Linked DNA regions of Homo sapiens: region 2 is linked to region 1. The links come from fine-mapping of genetic effects on gene expression. A gene starts in region 1. The other region holds a variant in brackets. All regions are shown on one strand. Distances are from middle to middle. Region 1 holds the start of KIAA1671. Region 2 overlaps KIAA1671.

Region 1 (12,358 bases):
CACCATCTAGCTCACTGCAAACTCCACCTCCCAGGTTCAAGTGATTCTCATGCCTCAGCCTCCTGAATAGCTGGGATTACAGGCAACTGCCATCACGCCTAGCTAATTTTTTTTAATTTTATTTTTATTTTTTTTTAGTAGAGATGGGGTTTCACCATGTTGGCCATGCTGGTCTCAAACTCCTGCCCTCAAGTGATCCGCCCACCTCTGACTCCCAAAGTGCTGAGATTACAGGTTTGAGTCACTGTGCTTGACCAGCTTCCTTTTATTTTTAATTTTAATTTTTTAAATTTTTATGTATTTATGTATTTATTTATTTGAGACAAGGACTCACTCTGTCTCAGGCTAAAGTGCAGTGGTGCAATCAAAGCTCACTGCAGCATCGAACTCCTGAGCTCAAGCAATGCTCCTGTCTCAGCCTCTGAATTAGATGGGACACAGCCTGACACACTGCCAGGCTAATTTTTTTTCTTTTCTTTTCTTTTTTTTTTTTTTTTTTGATACGAAGTTTTGTTCTATCGTTCAGGCTGGAGTGCAGTGGCACAATCTCGGCTCAGGGCAACCTCCACCTCCCAGGTTCAAGCAGTCTGCTGCCTCAGCCTCCCAAGTAGCTGGGATTACAGGCATGTGCCACCATACCTGGCTATTTTTTTGTTTTGTTTTGTATTTTCAGTAGAGAGAGGGTTTTTCCATGTTGGCTAGGCTAATCTTGAACTCCTGACCTCAGGTGATTCACCTGCCTCTGCCTCCGAAAGTGCTGGAATTACAGGTGTGAGCCACTGTGCCTGACCGCCAGACTAATTTTTAACCTTTTTTTTTTTTTTTTTAAGAGACAGAGTCTTGCTCTGTCACCCAGGCTGGATTGCAATGGCATGATCTCAGGTCACCACACCCTCCACCTCCGGGGTTCAAGGGATTCTCCTGCCTCAGCCTCCCGAGTAGCTGGGATTACAGGTGCCCCACCACCACGCCTGGCTGATTTTTGTATTTTTAGTAGAGACGGGGTTTCACCATGTTGGCCAGGCTGCTCTCGAACTCCTGACCTCAGGTGATCCGCCCACCTCAGCCTCCCAAAGTGCTGAGATTACAGGCGTGAGCCACCTCACCCGGTCTTAAATTGTTTTTTCAGAGACAGTCTCGCTATGTTGCCCAGGCTGGTCTCAAACTCCTGGGCTCAAGCAATACTCCCATCTCAGCCTCCCAAAGCGCTGGGATTACAGACAGGAGCCACTGTGCTTGGCCTTAGCTTCTTCTTAAATGGCAGCAGTTTGAGTAGTGAGACTAGGCAGAAGCACCCCTCCTTGTGTTGGGAGCCATGCAAGTGGGAAGGGCATGGCTTTGAGGCAGACAGCTTTGGGTTCAAATCCCAGCTCTTCCACTTTCCCGCTGCGTGACCTCGCAGCACATCAATAACCTCTTGAAGCCTCAGTTTCATGAACTGTAAAGTCGAGGGTCTCAAAAACAGGCACCACCTGGGTTTGTTGTAAAATATTAAAAAAAAAAAAAAAAAAAAAGGCCGGGTGCCTGTAATCCCAGCACTTTGGGAGGCCGAGGTGGGTGGATCACATGAGGTCGAGAGTTCGAGACCAGCCTGACCAACATGGAGAAACCCTGTCTCTAATAAAAATAACAAAATTAGCCAGGCGTGGTGGCACATGCCTGTAATCCCAGCTACTCGGGAGGCTGAGATAGGAGAATCACTTGAACCCAGGAGGTGGAGGCTGCAGTAAGCCGAGATCCTGCCATTGCACTCCAGCATGGGCAATAAGAGCAAAACTCCGTCTCAAAAAAAAAAAAAAAAAAAAAAAGGAACAAAAGAGCTTAGCCCAGATTCTGGCATAACAGCGCAGCTCTGATGCACTATGTGCTTTACCTACATTCTCCCCAGTCCTCCCATTTTACAGAGGAAGAAACTGAGGTCCCGGGGGGACATGGCTTATCTAGGTTCACACTCCTATAATCTGGATGGGTGAGTGGAAGAAGGAGAGTGAACTCCTGGACAGGGATGCTCCTGCCCTCCTCTCTGTCCCAAACCTGCCAAAGCCTTCAGGTTTAGAAATTCAGGGAGTGTCTGGGGTATAAAAGGAATTTTTGCTGCCCATGGTCTAACTTTTATTCATTCAGCACATCCTGAATTCTGGGTATATCAGTTGGCATGCAGTTCTCCAGGCGATCTATGCCTTTGCCAGTGCTGTTGCTTCTGCCTGGAATGTCCCAGCCCTCCCTCCTACTCATCCTTTAAGACTCAAGTATCACCTGTGGGTCACTCCCTCTCTCCCCCCAACACACACAGGCACACACCAGGTTGAGCAAAGCACCACCCACCTGGAACTTATCCTGATGACAGGCTATAGTGATAATAATCATACCACCCCTTACAGAGCATAGACACGGGGCCTAGCACTGTCCATACACTGCTTCAGTAAACTCACATAAGAACCTTTTGAGAATGGGAGTATCCTATCATGAGCCCTTTTTACAGATAGGGAAGTCGAGTCTCAAAACCATAACCATGCCCAAGGCCACAGCCAGGAGCAGGCAGGGCCAGGGTTTGCCCTGGACTATCTCTGGCTGATTCCCTCCCTCCCTTCTTTTTTTTTTTTTTTTTGAGACAGAGTCTCGCTCTCTCGCCCAGGCTGGAGTGCAGTGGCACTATCTCGGCTCACTGTAAGCTCCGCCTCGCCAGTTCACGCCATTCTCCTGCCTCAGCCTCCCAGGTAGCTGGGACTACAGGCACCCGCCACCACGCCCGGCTAATTTTTTGTTTTCGTATTTTTAGTAGACACGGGGTTTCACCGTGTTAGCCAGGATGGTCTCGATCTCCTGATCTCGTGATCCATCCGCCTCGGCCTCTCAAAGTGCTGGGATTACAGGCGTGAGCCACCACGCCCGGCTGGCTGGCTCCCTCCCTTCTATCTGCCTCCTCCGGGAAGGCTCCTTCAATTTATCCCTTCCACACCCAACTGAAACCCACCTTCCTCTGTTGCTTCTCTACGGCTTAACCTGAACCCAAATATTCACTAGTTGCAAGTTGGAAGGGAGTTCAAATTCCTGCTTTGCCACTGCTGCCTGGCAAACGCCTCACAATGCCACAGAGGCCTGCATCAGTGAAATGGGAATAATGTGCCCCATGTCTCCCCACAGGAAGTCCTTGAGGACTGGCATGTTTTATACCTACCCCTGAACAGGCACAGGGTTCTAAAGCAGGTTTGCTAAACTGAATTCAGTACTGATACCACTCCCTCTGAGGGGTTTCCTTACCCCAGGTAGACTGTTACACCCACCTTGAGGAAGGGATCTTCAAAGTGAGTGGCTCTCTAAATGTAACACTGATCAATGTCAAAGTTGTCAGTGAACACCCCTCCAACACCATTGGTCTCTACGTCCAGTCCACCGCGCACCGCGGTCTCTCACCAGGATTTTTCTTTTTTCTTTTCTTTTTTTTTTTTTTTTTTGAGACGGAGTCTCACTCTGTCGCCCAGGCTGGAGTGCAGTGGCATGATCTTGCTTCACTGCAAGCTCCGCCTCCCCGGTTCATGCCATTCTCCTGCCTCAGCCTCCCAAGTAGCCAGGAGAACAGGCACCTGCCCCATGCCTGGCTAATTTTTTTGTATTTTTAGTAGAGATGGGGTTTCACCATGTTAGCCAGGATGGTCTCGATCTCCTGACCTCGTGATCGTCCTGCCTTGGCCTCCCAAAGTGCTGGGATTACAGGCGTGAGCCACCGCGCCTGGCCTCTCACCTGGATTTTTCTAGCAGCCTGCTTACTGGCCCCCAGCCTCCTGGCATGACCCTCCGATCATCCAGCCTCCCCACACCAGCCAGGGCAAGCTTCCCAAAACACACATCTGACCCTGCCCCTCACCTGCAGAGACCCTTCCACTGTGATCCACAGCGCCCCACGCTCCAGGAATAAAGTCCAAACCACTAAGCATGGCTGGCCTGGCCCCAGTCAACACCCTAGGCACTCACCTACCTCCAGGCTTCTGCACAAGCTATTCCATTTCTGCAGCCCATAACACCAACCTCTTCCCACTGGCTGTCGAGAAAACTAAACTCTCTGACCCGCATCCCTCCTTATAGCCAAAGGCATCAGCCCCTCCTCCTATGATCATAGTTCTCCCCTTCCAGACAAATGCATATGTTCACAAAGACTTTCAGGGCATAAAGTATCCCCTTAAGGATGTGGCTGCTAGCCTCATCTTTGACACAGTGTCTTGAAATATTTGTTGAAGGAACAAATGATAAATAAATGAATGAATGCACATATAAAATATCCCTGTGAGGCTCTGTTTCTGAGTTGGTCAGAGATGTAGCCTGGTGAGGAGAAATGCTCAGAGCCAGACAACTGGCTCCTTCATTCTCCTGCCAAGGTCAGCCTTCAATAAAAAACAGCCCCGGCCAGGCGCAGTGGCTCATGCCTGTAATCCTAGCACTTTGGGAGGCGGAGGCAGGAGGATCACCTAAGGTTAGGAGTTTGGGATCAGCCTGGCCAACATGGTGAAACCCTATCTCTACTAAAAATACAAAAATTAGCCGGGCAGAGTGGCGGGCATCTGTAATCCCAGCCACTCTGGAGGCTGAGGCCGGAGAATTGCTTGAACCCGGGAGGCAGAGGTCGCAGTGAGCCGAGATCGCGCCATTGCACTCTAGCCTGGGCTGCAGAGCGAGACTCCATCTCAAAAAACAAAATAAAACAAAACAAAACAAAACAAACGAAAAAAAGCAGCCCCTAGGACCTCCAGTGGGGGTAGGGGCAGCTTCCAGCCTCTGAACCTAGGGTGAGAACTGTATCCCCAACATCAAGAATCAGTACTAGACTGCAGGGCAAGCCGACTGCTCCATAGCTGGAAAGTAACTCCAAGAGGACAAATCCTGAGTTGCCCTAGGCCACACCATTTCTACAGTGCTCCTGACATAGGTGCTCAATACACGCTGGTTGATGGAGCCAGCCAGTTCATGTGCCCAGCTGAAATGTATGTCCAGACACTGCATTGAAACTCTGCACTTCTCTTGGGTAATTGCACCCTTGTCAAGCATGCAAATCCTTTAAAAAGGATCCCCCTGCCAGAACCACCAAGATCTGGGCTTGTGTCTGTACAAATTCCTCGGGAACTGTCCCTGGCTGCAACAGGAAGGAAGGAGGCGCCAGAGTCTGGGGGTGCACACGTTTGTCCAGGAACCTTGATGGATTAGCAGAGGGAAAGCCAGACCAAGGGAGAAGCTTTGTCCAAATGTCTTGGTTACTCATTAGCCAAACCTCAGAGCTTCTCTCTGCAAGGGGGGATCAGAGGGGCAATTAACCCATTTGGAAGAAAGGTTAAGCTAAATAGCTCTCTAATCCTGCGGTTTCAAAAGATAGCAAGTAGGGTTTCTGGAATCTTTAGATACTGTAAGGCAAGCACAGGGGATGGGGCACGGGAAAGGAGAGGCCATAGACTGAGGGAGGCACTGATACTTATAGAGCCCCTACCTGTTTCATACCCTTCATTCCGATCCATCCTAGGCCAAGCCCATTTTGCCCAGAGGGTCCCCATCTGGATTCAGATAGGTTAAGTGTTTTGCCCAAGGTCACAAAAAAGGTGCAAAGAAAGTGTTTTTCTTTGTGCAACAGGTACAGTCCTTTCCCTTCCAAAAGATAATGGCTGCTCCTGGCTAGAGAAAGTTCAGTCCCGGCAGGCAGGAAGCCCTAGCCACCTAGGCGTCGCGCGGTGGAGGTCACACGCCTGCTCCGGGACTGGACAAACAGCAGGGTTTTAAGGCGCGGCGTCCCCACTCCCAGGCGAGTTTGTGCCAGCAGGGTGTGAAAAGGTCAGGCTCGGGTGGGGGTCAACGAGCCGCTTCCCATCCCGAGGGCCCCACCCGTGAGCCCGGGTGGGCCGCGCCGCCATCGGGGCGGGGACCACGCGGGCCTGCCTGGTAACAGGGGGACTGAGGCTTAATCCCATCAGGGCGCCTCCGCCCTGGGAAGACGAGCGGAGGGGGGGCGCAGGCCAGGCCGAGAGGACGTGTCCGGAGCCTCCGCGTCCGAGGGGCCCCGCGCGCCGCCCCTCTCACGCCCCCCGAACCACCGCGCTGTCCTCCGGGCTCCCCTCGACCAGGGTTCCGTCTCGCTCGCCGCCCTTGCTTCCCACTTCCACCTCCGGGGCCTCCAACCCGCACAAATGTCCAGACCCTAGCAGCTCCAGGCTGAGTAACCCAGATCTCCAGCGATCCCTCAGCTCCTAGCCACGGGATCTCTCTGAATCCATTCCCAAGGCTCAGGCTGGCATGGGAGGAGATTGATCCTCTCGCTCCCAGTCTCGAATCACCCTTCGCCGTCACCCCTGACTGGGGATCCAGTGGGACCCCAGGCCTCCAGCGCCCGATCCCCTCCAGGGATCGACTCCCAAGTCGCCAACCAGGTGGCACGTGATCCATTGGTTGCCCTGTGCGGGATCTTCCCGCGGGATCCACTCTCAAGTCTCGGGAGACGGATTCCCCGGCTCCCAAACCGGGATCCTCCCTCCCTGCAGACCCGGAGTCTGGGGAAATCCTCCGGCTCCCCGCCTCTTCCCCGGCCAACTTTGCCAACTTTTCTCCCGGGGCCTCGGCCGGGCAGAAACTTGGCGGCCCTCGCCAGCCGCCGTCACCCCCAGCTACCTCGTCGGCCGGGGACAGGAGGCGGCCAGCCGGCCCCCACTGCCCGCAGCCGCTGCGCAACCTACCGTGGAGCCACCGCCAGCCCGCGCCGCGCCGCCACCTGCCCGCAGCCCGCGGCACCTGCCCTGGGAGCCCGCAGCCCCGCGCAGCCTAGCCTGCTGGGGGCGGGGCCTCGAGCGGGGACGCGCCCCCGTCACCATGGGAACTGCCGCCGGCCGCGCCTGCGCGGAGGGGAGCAGAGCAGGCAGGACCCGAGTCCGCAGTGGCGCCTGGGCCTGGGACCTCTCCGGCGGGTCAGAGGTCACGACTCGCTTGGACACCCCTGCCGGAAGCGCTCCCGCCCCTCGAGGCCCGACCCCGCTCTGTCCAATTGGGAACTTTGCTCCGGGTACCCTCCCGCGTTCCCTGGATGTTCCCCAGTCACCAGCCAGGATCCCCCGCCACCGGCACCGACCCGCTGCCCAGCCGGCGACCCCGAGAGCCTAATGCAACCCAGGATTTCAGGAGGCGCTCCATAAATGTGGGCCCACTGACTTGCCTGGGCTGCTGGTGCCGGCCCGGGGGCGGGCAAGGTCTGTGCGCGGTGCTGGCGCCTCCTCGCGCCAAGCAAGGGCACTGCACCTGAGAGTTCGCTGGAGCGCCTACTGTGTGCGCATCCTCCTGCCATTATGTTGTGGGTGTGAGTTGTGGGGTAATGGGTACAGGAACTTGTGGACAAGTTGAGAGAATCGTAGGAAGTCGCCTCTGAAAGAGAAAATACCTGTTCTGTTATCCGTTACTCATTTCATTCAGCAGATCTTTATTAAGCACCTATTGCATGCTGGGTGCTGGAGAACCCAGTGGTGGGCAGCTGGCAAAATCCAGGCTGTTGTGCAGCTTACAGATATTCAAACAAATAATTTCACGAGTATATCAAATTGAATCTGTGACATGTGCTCCTATGGGAAATGTACAGAGCATGAATAACTGGAGGACCTAAAATCAATGTGCCTTTATTATAAGCAAGATAGACCTCAATAAAAAAAGAGAAAGAAAAGGACATCACAGGCTGCGCACGGTGGCTTGTAATCCCAGCATTTTGGGAGGCCGAGGCGGGTGGATCACCTGAGGTCATGAGTTTGAGACCAGCCTGGCCAACGTGGTGAAACCTCGTCACTACTAAAAATTACAAAAATTAGCTGGGCGTGGTGGCGGATGCCTGTGATCCCAGCTACTCGGGAGGCTAAGGCAGGAGAATGGCTTGAACCCGGGAGGTGGAGATTGCAGTGAGCCAAGAGCGCGCCACTGCACTCCAGCCTGGACGACAGAGCAAGACTCCATCTCAAAAAAAAAAAAAAGAAAAAGACATCACATTGTGTGGCTTCAGGAGGATTGGTGGGGAGACTTCTTGCCTCATTTTGCTCTTAAATTGTTGGGTGTGTGTAAGAAACAAGGGTAGCTCCTGTTCTCCACACCGTTTGCACTGCAACCCTTTTGAAGGTCTGATCATCACCATCAGACCCAGGCAGGGTAAACCCTGTTTACCAAACAGCAGCCCGAGAACCCCCAACTGACTTGTGTACAGTGCTGGAACCCAGGAATTGGGGGGCAGAGGTCCCATGAGGTCTCATGTCTCAAGACATTCTCCTTATCATCTGGGTATCTTGAGTACAGTCATCAAAAGGATCAAACCCAGTTGCTTTTACAGACAACTACCACTTCCAGAGAGAAGTCTGTGAGTAGGAGACCAGGAACGGCTGGGTTGAAACTTAAAATCCTTCAAAATCCACGTAAGTCAGGCCTTTACATGACGTGTATGTTATACCAGCAAAGGAAAATCGTTGATTGTCTGCTCTTCTCTCTAGACCTCCTGGAGGAAGGGACTTCTGTCTGTCTTTCACCTCCGATTCCCAGTGCCTAGAACAGGGCTTGGCACACAATAGGTGCTCAAAGAATGTATGCTGAGTGCATGAATGACCAACAGCTGATGACATGCCATCTGCTGCCCCTCCTCCCTAACCTTATGGGAACTTCCTGTCTCTCCTGGGCAAATCTCCATGAACCAGAATGCGTAGGCTGGGGGTTCTGTTCAATGGAATGTTCCATGTTTCTCAGCTCCCCAGCCAATGCAGGCTTCCACCTTGGCATCGCCTCTCCATTCCAGAACATAAGGATGGGAGGGGACAAGATAGTCCTCCTCCTGCCACCCCCCATGGAGACTCAAACCCAGACACGTCCCCAGCCCTGACCATCAACCCTACTCTCTGCCCCAAGAGATGCCCAGCCCAGACCGGGTGTCAGCTCTTCTATCCCTGTCAAGCTTTAAGGGGATTCCAGAGGTGCTGAACTACAACTCCCAGAGTCCTCCTGAACCTGGACCCAGAAGGGGCAGGACTTCCTGGTCAGCCCCCACCTTAGCTGGTTCCCCCTGCATTCCTGTGTCTTCCCGCCTAGGTGAGAGATGCCAGCTCGCACATACCCAGAGGTAGACCCTGACCAAAGAGGTGTCAGGTAGTACAGTTTCCGGAGGCAACACCCCTCCCTCCCCCAACCTCACCACTCCCAGCCCTGGCTTTTCTTTTTCTAAGAATAGAGCACAGTGCTTCCCAGGGATTTTCCCAGAACCCTTTCTTCGCAGTCTTTTGTCCCCTCCTCCAGAAGGTCCTGATTAGCCTGTGTCAGCTCTGTCCAATAGAACTTTCTGCAACGATGGAGATGTTCTATATCTGCACTGTCCAACATTAGCCACAGATGACTATTGAGCACTTAAAATGAGGTCAGGGAGACTGAGGAACTAAGTTTTACATTTTATTTAATTTTAATTAGTATAAATTTTAAAATCCACACGTGGCCCTGGCTACCATATTGGACAGTATAGCTCTACACCCCACACACCCCTTGCAAAGACCATGTTCATGCATTTTCGTTGGTGCATATTTATCCATTTTGTTTTTCCTAAAATTTATCTGCATGTTGAGTGTGAGAGCCGGTATGTTCTTTGAAATGTTTTCCCTCAACACTAGTCCTATGCCCATGCCATTACCCCCACCAGGAAGTCTTTGCCCTCTGCCTCCCCATCATCTAGTTAACAACTAAATGTCCCTCAGATCTTAGCTTCTACATCAGTTCCTCTAAGAAGCCATCCCCAACCACCAAAACTGATTAGATGTTGCAGAATCTGGGGCTGGTGCCCGCACTCATTAAAGTTCTGATCACACTGTAGTGTAATTGCCCAATTACTTTTCACTCACTTTCTAGGCTGTGAGGTCCTTGTGGGAAGAGACTAGCATAGTACCTGAAACAGAGTTGTCACCCAATAAATATTCATGAAGTTCAATGTTGCATAAATGTTTTCACATGCTGGAATCCAGCGTTTGGTTCACGGTAATGATACTAATGAAGGCTATCATTTATTCAGCCAAATATTTTGCCTGTGCTATCTCATTAAACTCCACAACAACCTATAAGACGTGCTCTATTATTATTATTACTTAATTTTTTTCGAGACAGTCCCGCTCTGTCGTCCAGGCTGGAGTGCAGTAGCACAATCTTGGCTCACTACACAGCCTCGCCCTCCTGGGCTCAAGCCATCCTCCCGCCTCAGGCTCCCGAGCAGCTGGGACTACAGGCATGCGCTACCATGCTTGGCTAATTTTTGTGTTTTTGTAGAGATGGGATTTTGCCATGTTGCCCAGGCTGGTTTTGAACTCCTTGTTCAAGCGATTCACCCACATCAATCTCCCAAAGTGCTAGGGTTACAAGTATGAGCCACTGTGCCCCGCTGAGATGCTCTATTATTATCTACCTTTTACAGATGAAGGATCTGAAGCTCAGAGAGGTTAAGTAAGTTGCCCAAGGTCACACAGCTAGTATTTCAGCCTGGCTCCCTGGAAAACAGAGCCCAAGGAAAATTTTATGTACTAATGCTTTATTAGGGATAAAATTCCAGCTCAGTAAGGGTGAAGGGAAGGGGACTTCAAGGCAAGGGAGGAGGGAGAGCAAATATAAGACATGCCTTACTAGGCTGGCTACAGAAGCCACGTGAAACAGACCATGGAAGGAATGAAGGAAGCGCGAGGACTTCATCGGCTGGCGCCTCCCATCCTCTGTCCACGATTAGTCACTGTTGGGCCCAACTGTGTTATCTGTGCCTCCAGACAGCCCCAAGGGAAGCCAATTCCATACACAGGGCTTCACCTGAGCCTAGAAGAGGAGGGTCCAGGGCTCCCTCCCTTGAAGCAGGTCAGGTCTGCTTGAATGACAGCGGGAGATGCAGGCCTAGGTGGCTAAGTAGATGCAGCAACTGACCCAAGCCGCCTGCAGGCGGAAGCAAGAGGAGGCTTGATCTTGTCCAGAGCTGCTGGCTGGCTGGGAAGGACGCAGCTGAGCACACCTGAGAAGGTGCATCAGTCAAGCCTGATACAGCGAGTAAACATCACAACTGAAATCCAAATCCAGTTTAGGCTAACTCCAGTGCCCTTCAACACATATTGATTGAAAGGGGAAAAATGAATATATGAATGATTGAATGAGTGACTGGGGAAAAAACCCAGGCAGCCACCACTCCAGACGCCCTCATTTTACAGGTAGAGAAACTGAGGCCAAGGAGGCAGTGATGCCCCAACTCAGGTCACACTGACTGAGGCGGCAGAGCTGGGACTTGAATGAAGCCTGAGACACGGCTTCACTGAGATTTTCTGCCTCTAACTGGCTGGGAACCTCCTGCTTCTGGCAATACCAACTGCCAGGTGCTCATTCGTTAATCTACAGGGAAAAGCTCGCATTTCCTGTGCACCGAGACGATGTCTTTTGTTCTCACCTTCCTAGCAGCCATCTCCCCTCTGCCAACAGCATCTCCGTTTTCCTCCAGGGAAGAATCCCACCCGCTACACTCAGTCCATGTCGTTTCAAGGGCGGTAAGCCTCGCGACACCCTTACTTGATCCTCACTTTCCAAACCTTAACCCCCAACCCTAGGACACAGGATGTAGGTCTGGCCAATCAGAGCATCCCATTTGCCTGGCCACAGTGATTGATTCGTGGTAGGCATGGGACCCAAGTTTGTCCATTGAGTGTTAATCACAGCACTTGCTGCAATAGTGTGCAAAGAGAAGCTTTCTTTTCTCTGGGGTTGCTGAGTCTCGGAATGTCAGCCTGGAGCCACCAAAGGGCAATATTGTTAGAGGGAATCCACCTAGAGAGTGAAGCCAACTGAGCAGAAAACAGAACTGAGAGCTGGAGAGAGAGAGGGGTTCTGAAGACATTGCTTATTTACCTGGATCCCACTATGCCTGAAGCCCATCCCAGAGAATTTTCAGTTACGTGAACCAATACATTTCTCATGTCTATTTGAGTGGTGCTTCCATCACTTATAGCAAAAGAATACCAGGCCAGGCGCGGTGGCTCACGCTTGTAATCCCACCACTTTGGGAGGCCGAGGTGGGCAGATCACAAGGTCAGGAGATCGAGATCATCTTGGCCAACAAGGTGAAACCCTGTCTCTACTAAAAAAAAAAAAAAAAAAAAAAATACAAAAAATTAGCTGGGCATGGTGGCAGGAGCCTGTAGTCACAGCTACTCAGGAGGCTGAGGCAGGAGAATGGCGTGAACCCAGGAGACAGAGCTTGCAGTGAGCCGAGATCGCACCACTGCACTCCAGCCTGGGCGACACAGTGAGACTCTGTCTCAAAAAAAAAAAAAAAAGAATACCAGCACCTACTCTGTGCCAAGTTTTGTGG
Region 2 (12,358 bases), 77 kb before region 1:
TCTCAGCACTTTGGGAGGCCGAGGCGGGTGGATCACCTGAGGTCGGGAGTTCGAGACCAGCCTGACCAACATGGAGAAACCCTGTCTCTACTAAAAACACAAAATTAGCCAGGTGTGGTGGCGCATGCCTGTAATCCCAGCTACTCAGGAGGCTGAGGCAGGAGAATCGCTTGAACCCAGGAGGCAGAGGTTGCAGTGAGCTGAGATTGTGCCATTGCACTCCAGCCTGGGCAACAAGAGCGAAATTCCATCTCTAAAAAAATAAATAAATAAATAAAATAAAGACAGCATCTCGCTCTGTTGCCCAGGTTGGAGTGCAGTGGTATAATCAGAGCTCACTGCAGCCTCAAACTCCTGGCCTCAAGCAATCTTCCCACCTTGGCCTCCTAAAGTTCTGGGATTATAGGCATGAGCCACCACATCCAGCCTGTTATGTGTATTTTACTACAATAAACACACCCACATACACACACACATAAAGTCTACTTATAGAGATAAAATCTCATCACATGTAAAGCAAGGGTTTATTTCTTAACTATTCCTTTCTTTAAAGTTTTAAACATACACAAAATTACAGAGAAAATAATGAACTTGCCCAACCCATCCCCCCAATTTAATGACAATCAACATTTTGCCACTCTCGCCACACACAGCCTTTTTGCCCTTGCTGCTGCTGTCACTACAGCATTTTAATACAAATATAAGGAGCTTTAATTACTTAAATGGTATCACTCCTAACCATTTTCAAAGAAATGATTCAGAAAATGCAACAATAAAACTTGCAGGGCAAACCGCTGCCTCCAAGAGTGGTGGTGGGTATTGCCATTCAAAGCCAGCCCACTTTTGTTGGTGATGTACTGAGATGGGTACAAGCTTGAAACCAAGCACTGGTGTTATTTTTAAAACTCCACGGAAGTTTCTTAAAACATAAAACATGCATCTACCATATGATCCAGCCATTCTACTCCTAGATGTTTACCCAAGAGAAAAGAAAATAGAAGTCCTGGCCGGACGCGGTGGCTCACACCTATAATCCCAGCATTTTGGGAGGCCAAGGCAGGCAGATCACCTGAGGTCAGGAGTTCAAGACTGGCCTGGCCAACATGGTGAAACCCCATCTCTACTAAAAATACAAAAAATTAAGTGGGCATAGAGGCACGTGCCTGTAGTCCCCAGCTACTCAGGAGGCTGAGGCAGGAGAATTACTTGAACCCAGGAGGCAGAGGTTGCAGTGGGCTGAGATCACGTGACTGTACTATCCCAGGCAACAGAGTAAGACTCTGTCTCAAAAATTAGAAAAAAAAAAAAAAAAAAAGGCCAGGCGCAGTGGCTTATGCCTGTAGTCCCAGCACTTTGGGAGGCCGAGGCAGGTGGCTCACAAGGTCAGGAGATGGAGACCATCCTGGCTAACACGGTGAAACCCCATCTCTACTAAAAATACAAAAAATTAGCCAGGCGTGGTGGCGGGCCTCTGTAGTCCCAGCTACTCAGGAGGCTGAGGCAGGAGAATGGTGTGAACCCAGGAGGCGGAGCTTGCAGTGAGCCGAGATCGCGCCATTGCACTCCAGCCTGGGCAACAGAGCGAGACTCCATCTCAAAAATGAAAAATAATAATAAATTAAAAAATTAAAAAAGAAAAAGAAAAGAAAAGAAATAGAAGCTCTTACAAAGCCTTGTCCACAAATGTTCACAGCAGCTTCACTGGTAATTGCCCCAAACAGATAACAACCCAATTGTCCATCAAAAGGTGAATGGATAAACGAATTGTGGTCTACTCACACAAATAGAATACTAGTCAGCAACAGAAAGGAATGAACTACTGATACATGCTACACCATGAATGATCTCAACATAATTACTCTGAGTGAACAAGCAAGGGCAAAAAAAAAAAGAGGACTGATTCCATTTATACTAAAGTCTAGAAAATGCAAACTAATCTACACGGACAGAAAGCAGACCTGTGATGGGCTGGGAAGAGCAGGGGAAGGGAGAGATTACAACGTCGTGGCCGGGTGTGGTGGCTCACACTTGTAACCCCAGCACTTTTGGAGGCCGAGGTGGGTGGATCACTTGAGGTCAGGAGTGCAAGACCAGCCTGGCCAACACAGCGAAACCCCGTCTCTACTAAAAATGCAAAAATTAGCCAGGCGTGGTAGTGGGTGCCTGTAATCCAAGCTACTCGGGAGGCTGAGGCAGGAGAATCACTTGAACCTGGGAGGTGGATGTTGCTGTGAGCCAAGATCGCACCACTGCACTCTAGCCTGGGCAACAAGCAAAACTCCGTTTCCAAAAAAAAAAAAAAACAAAGTGGCATGAGGAACCTTTTGCCTGGGATGGAGATGTTCGCTATTCTGACTGTGATGGTGGTTTCACAGGTTGTACACACATAGGAAACTCACCAAGTTGAATGTGTTAAATCTGTGCTCTTTCCTGTATGTCAATTGTATCTCAAAGCTGTTTTTAAAAAAACTGGGCCAGGCACGGTGGCTCACACCTGTAATCTCAGCACTTTGGGAGGCCGAAGCGGGCAGATCACGAGGTCAGGAGATCGAGACCATCCTGGCTAACATGGTGAAACCCCAACTCTACTAAAAATACAAAAGAAATAAGCCGGGCATGGTGGCGGGCACCTGTAGTCCCAGCTACTTGGGAGGCTGAGGCAGGAGAATTGCTTGAACCCGGGAGGCGGAGCTTGCAGCGAGCCGAGATCACATCACTGCACTCCAGCCTGAGCGACAGAGGGAGACTCCATCAAAAAAAAAAAAAAAAAAAAAAAACGAAAACAAACCAACCAAAAAAACAACTAAGACTCTGCAGAAAGCATCAACCACAAACCGGTTTTCGCTAGGAGACAATTTTATGAGTTTTCTCTTATTAAAAAGATGAAATAAAAATACTTTTCAAGCAATTTAATTGCTGGTAACCTACTTCTTTTTGTTTTAATTTACATTTTTATTCTTTTAGAGACAAGTCTCACTCTGTCGCCCAGGCTAGAGTGCAGTGGCATGATCATGGCTCACTGCAGCCTCAAAGTCCTGAGCTCAAGCAATCCTCCTGCCTCAGCCTTAACTAGAACTATAGGCATGCACAACCACATCTGGCTAATTAAAAAAAATTTTTTTTTTCTTTTAGAGATAAGAGTCTCACTATGTTGCCCAGGCTGGTCTCAAACTCTTGGGCTCAAGCAATCCTCCCTCCACCTCAGCCTCCCAAAGTGCTGGGATTACAAATGTGAGCCACTGTGCCCAGCCACCTACTTCTTCCTTCTATGGCTAGGTGGTAAGTAAGGGGAAGGCAATAAGAACCACTATGAAGGACCTTGAAGGAGTTTCTATTAACATCTTAAACCTAAATTTTAGTATTTTAACAAAGCAGGCACTCCTATATAAGAAAGCCATGCCCCTCTGCCTCTTTGCGAAGAAAAAAAATGCCTGATAACATTTGTAAACAGCATTTAACACCTGGGAGTAGGGAATCACAACTCTTCATGCCAAAAGGGACTTCAAAGTCCCAACATTAGAAGAAAAAATGTTTTATCGTGTGCATGACATGTTTCTGAGTCTTCCTGGGGCCTAGAAGATCATGGAGGCTCTTTCTCCAGCAGCCATAACTGCCCGCTGGTTAATGAGAGACGTGCTACACAGCCACTCCTTACCTTTTCTCTCGGTTCCTTAGGAAACTCGCCGCTCAGCTCAGCACTCTTCTCATATTTGACTTCGTTGCTGGAAGCTGAACTTGAAAACCTGGTACAGAGATCTGAGTTACCTTCATGGAGCTGGAAGCTGTTATTCCCCCCAGCCCACACACCAGCTCAGGAGGCCAGGCCAAGTAACCTTCAGAAAGGACATTTCCTTTCCACTTACCAAAAGGAGAACTGCCCAGTGGGGAGAGCCTACCTCAAACACAGCATTACTGGGGTGGAGGAGCCCCAGCTGGGGGAAGACACCCAGGTGCTAGTCCCAGCTCTACTGCCTCTTCACTGGGGGAGCTTGGTTTAGGCTTGTGACCTCACCTGAGCCTCTGTTTCTTCATCTATAAAACAGGGATAATTAACACCTCCCCATCCCTTTTATGGGGCAGATAAGAGGCTACTCAAGGCCCTAATAGCTACGTGAGGGCGTTTAGGGAAGAGTGAAGATGCCCCAGGAGGGATAATGAATGGCTGTTGTTAGCAGTGCCAGGTAAAACAGCAGCCCCACCTCAGAGCAGCCCCCAGACTGAAGGGTAGTGGGCTGTCAGGGAATGTGTGGGGGCCCAGGTCTGTCTCTGCCTCTCTGGATCACCAGGGCCCTCTTTGGGCCTCGTTTTCCCCACCTCAAAAAGGGAAGAGGGTGTGGAGCTAGAATCTTTCCATCTCTGGAGAGCATTCTGGTGTAAATACCTGAAGATGTAGCACGTGTTTAGTTCAAAGCTGGGGACTGAAGAAAAGGAAAGGGAGAGAAATCAAACCACTTAAACTTAACCCATACTCAGCAACCCAGGGTCTGTCTCCTGGGATATGTGAGGCTGAGAGGAGTTCTGTCTAAACTCAGAGCCTCAGTTTCCCCACCTGTCAGATGGGGATAATCACACGGCCTCTCCAAGGCTCTTCCATGACATAGTGAGAGGAAGCATATTAGGACCGTGGCATAGGTGTCCTTCTCTGATATCTTAATTCAGGGGTTGTCAGCCCCGGCTACACATAAGATCGACTTGGAAGCTTTTAAAAACTACCAAAATACAGGCCGGGTGCCGTGGCTCATGCCTGTAATCCCAGCACTTTGGGAGGCTGAGGCGGGCAGATCATGAGGTCAGAAGTTCGAGAACAGCCTGACTAACATGGTGAAACCCCGTCTCTACTAAAAATACAAAAATTAGGCCGGGCGTGGTGGCTCACGCCTGTAATCCCAGCACTTTGGAAGGCTGAGGCGGGCGGATCACGAGGTCAGGAGATCGAGACCATCCTGACTAACACGGTGAAACCTCATCTCTACTAAAAATGCAAAAAATTAGCTGGGCGTGGTGGCTGACGCCTGTAGTCCCAGCTACTTGGGAGGCTGAGGCAGGAGAATGGCGTGAACCTGGGAGGCGGAGCTTGCAGCGAGCCAAGATCGTGCCACTGCTCTGGCCTCAGCGGCAGAGCGAGACTCCGTCTCAAAAAAAAAAAAAAAAAAAAAAATTAGCTGGGTGTGGTGGCGCGTGCCTGTAATCCCAGCTACTGCGGAGGCTGAGGCAGGAGAATCACTTGAACCCGGGAGGTGGAGGTTGCAGTGGGCCGAGATTGCAACACTGCACTCCAGCCTGGGTCACAAAAATAAATAAATAAATAAAAATAAAAAATAAAATAAAAACTACCAAAATAGAACACCCTCCCCAGACCAAGTGAATCGGAATCTCTAGGGGTGGGGCCCAGGCACTGGTATTTTTTCCGGTTATTCTAAAGTACTGAGGGCCAGTGGTCTAGCTTTGGCTTGGCTGGCTGTCCTGGTTCCCAGGGCCGGGAGGGCAGTCTGCCCAGAGATCCTGCCTTTGCAAGCTCCACCCTGGACAAAGTATGTCAGTGGCATGCATGCCATTAAGAGCCAGTCGATCATGCCGAGTGGCATCTCTCTGTTGTGGCCACTTGTGGGAAAACAAAGAAGAGATGTCGGAAGTGGGCCAAGTTTAGAATATCATTATTAACCAACCGACTTAGAATATCATTATTAGCCATCTGACTTAGAATATCATTATTAACTAACTTAGAACATCAGTATTAACCAACTGACTTAGAACATCAGTATTAACCAAATGACTAAGAATATCTTTTTTGTTTTTGTTTTTTGGTGTTTTTTTTTTGAGACGGAGTCTTGCTCTGTTGTCCAGGCTGGAGTGGAGTGGTGTGATCTCGGCTCACTGCAACCTCTGCCTCCCGAGTTCAAGCGATTCTCCTGCCTCAGCCTCCTGAGTAGCTGGGACTACAGGCGCCTGCCACCACGCCTGGCTAATTTTTGTATTTTTAGTAGAGACAGAGTTTTACCATGTTGGCCAGGCTGGTCTCAAACTCCTGACCTTGTGATCCACCCGCCTCGGCCTCCCGAAGTGCTGGGATTACAGGCATGAGCCACCGCGCCCGGCCTAGAACATCATTATTAACCAACTGACTTAGAACATCATTATTAACCAAATGACTTAGAACATCGGTATTAACCAGCTGACTTAGAACATCGGTATTAACCAACTGATTGACAACATCGGTATTAACCAACTGACTTAGAGTATCATTATTAACCAACTGACTTAAGAGTATCAG[T/C]ATTAACGAACTGACTTAGAATATCATTATTAACCAAATGACGTAGAATATCAGTATTAACCAACTGACTAGCCCAAGTTACCTTGACTCCTCTGAGTTTATTTTTTGGGCCACTCATAAAGGCTTAGGCCCAATCTTAAGCGTTCTCTCTCTGACTTCAGGGAAGAAAGGCTTAGCTATGGAGACAGGCTGAGCTGGAATGCCATCCAGCTCCCACCTCCCCACAGTATTTCACCCTTCTGCCCTGCCTCCATGAAATGGGCACATACCGCCCACTTCACTCACACACTACATCTGAAGCTGAGAAAAGCCATGAAAATTGGGCTCCGGGCCCCCCGGCTGGCCATACCCAGAGGAGAGCTGCACTGCCTCTCCGCACCTCACCTTTCTCATCTGAGAAATGGACACTGCCACTACCTCCTCTTGGGCTATGGGTAAACTGAGGGGGGGTGACAAGTGCCCAGCATGGAGCCTGGTTCCGTCTTCCTCAGGGTGTGTGGGTGGGCGGCTGAGAGAGGGGTGTGGGATGTGCCTACTTACAATTTGGTCAAATCCGCCGACAGCGGCCGAGCCTGGAACGTCCTCCTCCTGACCTCGGGCTTAGCCTCTGAGCTCTCGGCAGTCCAGCCTCTGATCCGTTCCTGAACGCTCACAACCCCTTTCTCCGGCTCTGGTGCCGCCGATGGGGACGCAGGGGTGGCCAGGGGAGATTCAGACCCCACTGCCAAGGCCAAGGTGCTGTCCTCCCGAAACAGGCTGATGCACTTCCTGACACTCCTCCTGGAGGCCCACTCTCCCCCTGCCGCGGCCTCCCCATCCGCCACTCTGCTCTTAACCTCAGCAAGTTCTAGGCCCCTTCCCAGCCTGGGTGAGGGGGACTCAGCAGCCTTCTCTGGCTCTGGGTCCAGCTTGGCCTTTTCTTCCCAGGGACTCTGGTCATTGCTGGGGGTGACCCCAGATGAGCCCCCCACCAGGGCTCTGGGGCTGCCCATCTCCGGCTTCGAAAGCATCTTCTCCTTCCGTTCACGGATTTTCTTGGCCACCTCCAGGAAGTCCAAATCAGGATCATGAAGAGGAGCCTCCGCCTTGACCAAACAGTCCCTGTCCAGCTTGGACGCTGCTCTGGGCCTCTCTAGCCCAGCCATATCCCCTGCTGTGGGTCCACTTCCTTCATCGGCCACCTTCCTCAGCAAGGCCTCTTTGTTCTCAAACCGGGCCGTGAGGTCCATGGACAAGGGCCTGGGCTTCCTCACCCACGTCTTCTCGGGAGGGGTGGGTGGCACTTTGCCCACTGTGGCCGCTGCGCCGGGGCCTGGCTTCTGAGGCTGAATGGACTCCGTGAAAATGGCAGACACGGGCCTTCTCTTCAGGCGAGGCCTGGGCTCCACAAGGGGGCGTGCCGTGTCCTCCACACTGCTGGCCTTTGAGGGAGGATGGTCTTGGCCTGCCTCCTCTTGGGGTACAGGTGGTTTTGTGTCCTGAGACAGGGGAGCTGACCGGGGAAGGGTCCCCGCAGGCTTCTGGGTGGGCAGGGCGGGCTTGGCAGCCACCTCAGGCCGGGAGCCGGACACACCTAGCTTGGCCTCCTCCGCCCCCTCACTAACCGCCTTCCCCAGAGCGGGGCCGCTTTTGGTGGTTTCGAAGAGAATCATGGTGCTGGAGCTGGGCCGCAGGAACACAGCCTTGTTGAAGAGGGGCGAGCTCGTCCTCGGGCCCTCCCCACTGCCCACCTCCTGCCCCACCAAGCCGGGCATCCTGTTGTCCAGATCCTTTGCTGCTGGCTCCTCAGAGAGCCCCCCAGAGGGGGAAGGTCCAGTCGAACTGGGCCGCAGAGACGGGACAGGAGATTTCACGTCCTGCTCCTTCGAGAAGGGTTTGGGGGCGAGCCTTGGCAGAGGGAGTAACCGGGCCGGGCTCCGCAGGGGGCTCTTCGCTTCCAAGATCCGGGCTGGGGGAGCCCCAGAGGCTTCGCCGGCCTGGAGGAAGTAGGTCCTCGTCAGGGTCTCCTCCTTGCCCATCTCACCCAGGCCTGGCACGGCCGTCAAGGGCGTTATGGAGCCCACCTCGACCCGCGTGGCCATGGTTATGGTTGTGGATTCATGGGGGTTAGGAACTTCAAGAATGGAGAAGCAATTGCTAAACAAACAAAACAAACAAACAAGTAAATTTGGAAAACAGTCAGTGTCTGGGTTGAAGCAGAATGGTTTAGAGAAATGGGACAGAGTCCTGAGCCCCAGATTCCATACGACAGCCCTCTGCTGACCTCACCCGGCAGGCTTGGGCCTGCCTCTCCCCGTCTCTGAGCTCTGGACGAGGGGAGTGGACTAAACGCCCATCCCTGAAGTTCGTTCCAGCTCCAAGGGTGTAGAAAAGGCATCAACACTCTGGAGGACTTTCCCCTGACAGCTAATCTAGAGGCCAGCACTTAATGGCAAAAAGCAGTGATCTCTGCTACACAGATAAGGAAACCAGCTCAGAGAGGCCAAGTAACTGGAGTCACCCAGGAAGCAAGAGGCGAAGTCAGGACTTAAAACCAGGTTTGACACCAAATTCACACCACACATGCTCCTCCCTGAATAGGCCTCAGTGGGAGCGTCCTCACATTCCCTCACTCCTGTTACCCTGTTTTCCCACTGCAGAGCCTGCCCACATCCCAGGTGATCCTAATCACAAGTGTGTGCTAAGCATCTAGCACAGAGAAGGCAAGTAACCTGCTGCAGGTCACACAGCAATGCAGCTCAGGAGTGCCTGGGAGCACAAAGCTGGTTAGTGACCTTGGAACCCATGCCCTAGGCACCAACCCCACCCAATCATCCCTTTGTCCCTTTTCTTTCCCCTCCCCCACCCTTCCAGATGCCATAAAAAGAAGCCATTCTCATTTTTCTCACTCAACCTGCTTTCATTATTTGTTTGCTTTGTGGTTCTTTTCTGTTGAACACGCATATTATGCTGACTGCCTTCATACTCTTAATAGAAAGAGAAACGCCCAACAGTGAGGTCTTCCCATGAGTGAGATCTCGAGCTATGCCACATGCTTCTTGTGTTTTATACATCTCATCCTCCTCACAACCCTATTTAGTGGGTACAATTAGGAGACCCCATTTTGTAGTAGCTTGGGGCATAAGCCTCTTGTTCACCCTGCTATGAGATCTGTTTTCGCAAAGCAGGGGACCTCCTCTCTCATTAACCCTCCAGCAACTCCAAAAGTCAAGAATGAAGGAATGATCGTTATCTCCCTCATGGAGATGAAGGGAAAGGGCCCAGAGAGGTCGCCAGACTTGCCTACGATCACCCAGCTGAAACCTAACCTCAAGTCCACCACCCACTTAGCTCTGTCTTTTTTTTTTTTTGAGACCAAGTTTCACTCTTGCTGCCCAGGCTGGAGTGCAATGGCGCGACCTTGGCTCACAGCAACTTCTGCCTCCCAGGTTCAAGCCATTCTCCTGCCTCAGCTTCCGGAGTAGCTGGGATTACAGGCATGTGCCACCACGCCCAGGTAATTTTGTGGTTTTAGTAGAGGTGGGGTTTCTCCATGTTGGCCAGGCTGGTCTCGAACTCCTGACCTCAGGGGATCCGCCCACCTCAGCCTCCCAAAGTGCTGAGATTACAGGCTTGAGCCACCACACCCAGCCTCAGCTCTGTCTTTTTAAAAATTATTTTTTATTCCTTTCTGGTCTTAAAAAGTGCCAGGTAAGTTGCTGTTCTCGATCCCCCAGGCTCTCTTCATGCCAGTGTTTTCTTCCCTGTGAAACTGCCCCCAGCCAGCCCCCACCTAGATGGACTAAAAAAGTAGAAGGTATTTTAGTTAAACACAAGCCTCTCCACTTCCCTTCCTTGGGGCCCCACACTGCTCCCCCGGCTCTGACTCACTCAGCAGCCTCCAGGAAAGAAAGGCAGACAGATTTTGATATTTTCTCTTCCTTACACGCTCGATGGTGCTAACAGATTCCATCTCCCCAAACTGGAGAACACTGTCTAGACACGGTTAGAGGTAGAATGGAGGGACAGATATGAAGAATCTGAGAATTGGAGAATTTCCATACACAAAGATCCCAACCAGAGTTCTAAGGCTCCAGAATCCCACCCAGAATCAGGGCCATTGGCCTTTTGGGAGAGCAGCTGTGACCTCTGGAAACCCTGATTGAGGATACATATGTAATAGCCAGGACATGAGACACAGAACAATGACAGGATTCAAAGGACAGAGAGAAAATTCTCTGGCAGAACTCACAGGCACTCTCCATGCCCTTGGACACTCCAGCCCTCAAGCTTGGGTCAAGCATGGGCCCCACTTACCCAAGCTGGCAGGCCCTGGGTCAGGGGGTGTGACTGCCGGGAAAAGCCAGTAGTGTCACATGTCATCATGAATGGGGCTGTCCACACACTTCCATGGCAGAAACAAGAAGGGGGAAAGAAGACTCGTCCCAGCAGGCTGAGTTTCAGCAGGTCTAAGGAGACACAGGATGACAGCCTCAGTTCCGGAGTTCTGGCAGTATGGGAACAGACGGCACAAAAGCTTTCAAGCTCCAAATGCATCCGCTGGCATCTACTCCAGCTTGTAAAACGTATGCTCCTTTTGGCTTTTCGATTTTGTAGCCTTATATGTACGTGTGCATAAATAGTGCTGAGCCCACAGTACGTGCTCAATAAAAATCTTCCCTGTTCTCTGATACATTTATTAAGCACCTACGGTGTGTACAAAGATGAGCATGAAACATCCCCTGCAACCATGCAACTCACAGTCTTCTGTAAGAAACACACATACACACACAAGCAATTACAACTGGGTAACAAATGTCACTTTTTAAATGCAGGATGTGGGGGCAAATAGGACTGATTGCCTAGAATTGGAACTGGTGGTCCTGCATAACTCACTTGACTTAGAGGAGGTAGCTACTGAGCATTCGAGGTGCTGACTCACTTGGTAGCTGCTACCAAGTGATGTGCTTCACTTGGTAGCTGCTACCAAGTGATGTGCTTCACTTGGTAGCTACATTAGCGGTATTTGGACATTGTACCTCTTTGAAGCCCTCCAAATGCCTCCTCAGGGCCTTTGCACATGCTATGCCTGTTCTCTGGGACAACCATCTTGCTCACACACAGACACAGACCACAGTTCACACATCTCTGTCTCCCTTCAACCCGGTACAACCCCCTCCTACCTGTTCACAGAGCACCACATACACTCGGAGGCTTGGCAGGACTTAGCATAGCTACACTGTTACATTTAATACGACATCATCCTTCACATCAGCCTCTCCCATTCAATGGTAAGCCCCGCCAGAGGACACCCCAAATCCCTAGTGGCTAGCACAGCAGCCTGGCACATAAAAGCACCAGATACATGATTACTGAATAGAGAAATAAATCATTGCTGAGTTAATAAGTAAATGAATGAAGAAATATTCTTCTGCCCCTGCTGCCCACTCTCTAAGATGCTAAATAAGTCCAGATACCATGAGTCTCATGCCAAATGACTCTAAGCAATCTGGGACATAAGATGAGTTACTCTAGCTGTGGCTGTGGCTACTGAATGACAGAATCAAAAAGCTGTGAAGTGCTCAGCCAGAGGCTCAATCCACCAATCCTCACCCAGGGACCCCTATCAGTTTCACAAGCCAGAGGCTCAATCTACCAACCCTCACCCAAAGACCTCTATCAGTTTCACTGGGCCACACAGAGGAGCTCCACCCCGAGGGCAGGCACCTGCTACATCCACATTAACCTCACACTGTCACACCAGCTCACCTGCCCAAATGTGGAATGAATGCTTCTCTGCATGGATTTTCCTGGGAAAAGAGTCACCAAGAGCAACTGTTTGCTGAATTAGGATCAATGGTACACAAATGTCACCCCACTTTGGGAACCTTGAACCCACCTCAGGGACTATACTGCATGGAAGTAAAAGGAGAAGGACAAGATAAATTAAGTCCCTTGGTCCACGCTCCTCTACACCAAACAGTGCCTCTGTGACCCGTCATCTGCTTTGTATCTTGAACTGCCTCTCAAGTTACCATTGCAAATGCCTAGCAGATGTCTGATATGTAAACACAGTTGCACAAATGAGTCAATGAATGAATTAATAAA

Evidence for each region. PIP is the estimated chance that this variant, and not a neighbour inherited with it, causes the effect.
Region 2: its variant is fine-mapped to the expression of KIAA1671 in CD4 T cells (CEDAR, PIP 0.95).

Annotation. Positions count from the first base shown.
Region 1 is chr22:24,947,122-24,959,479 of GRCh38, reverse strand. It overlaps KIAA1671, which reads right to left and starts at 6,764. Exons shown (of 13, transcript NM_001145206.2): 1 at 6,708-6,764. RefSeq lists an enhancer at 593-1,092 and a silencer at 6,698-6,947.
Region 2 is chr22:25,023,994-25,036,351 of GRCh38, reverse strand. It overlaps KIAA1671, which reads right to left. Exons shown (of 13, transcript NM_001145206.2): 2 at 10,568-10,719; 3 at 6,812-8,407; 4 at 3,656-3,743. The coding sequence starts at 8,352. Among named protein-coding and RNA genes, the nearest start is that of KIAA1671, 77 kb to the right of the region's middle. RefSeq lists an enhancer at 9,205-10,404. The variant T/C (reference allele first, on the strand shown) is at 6,272.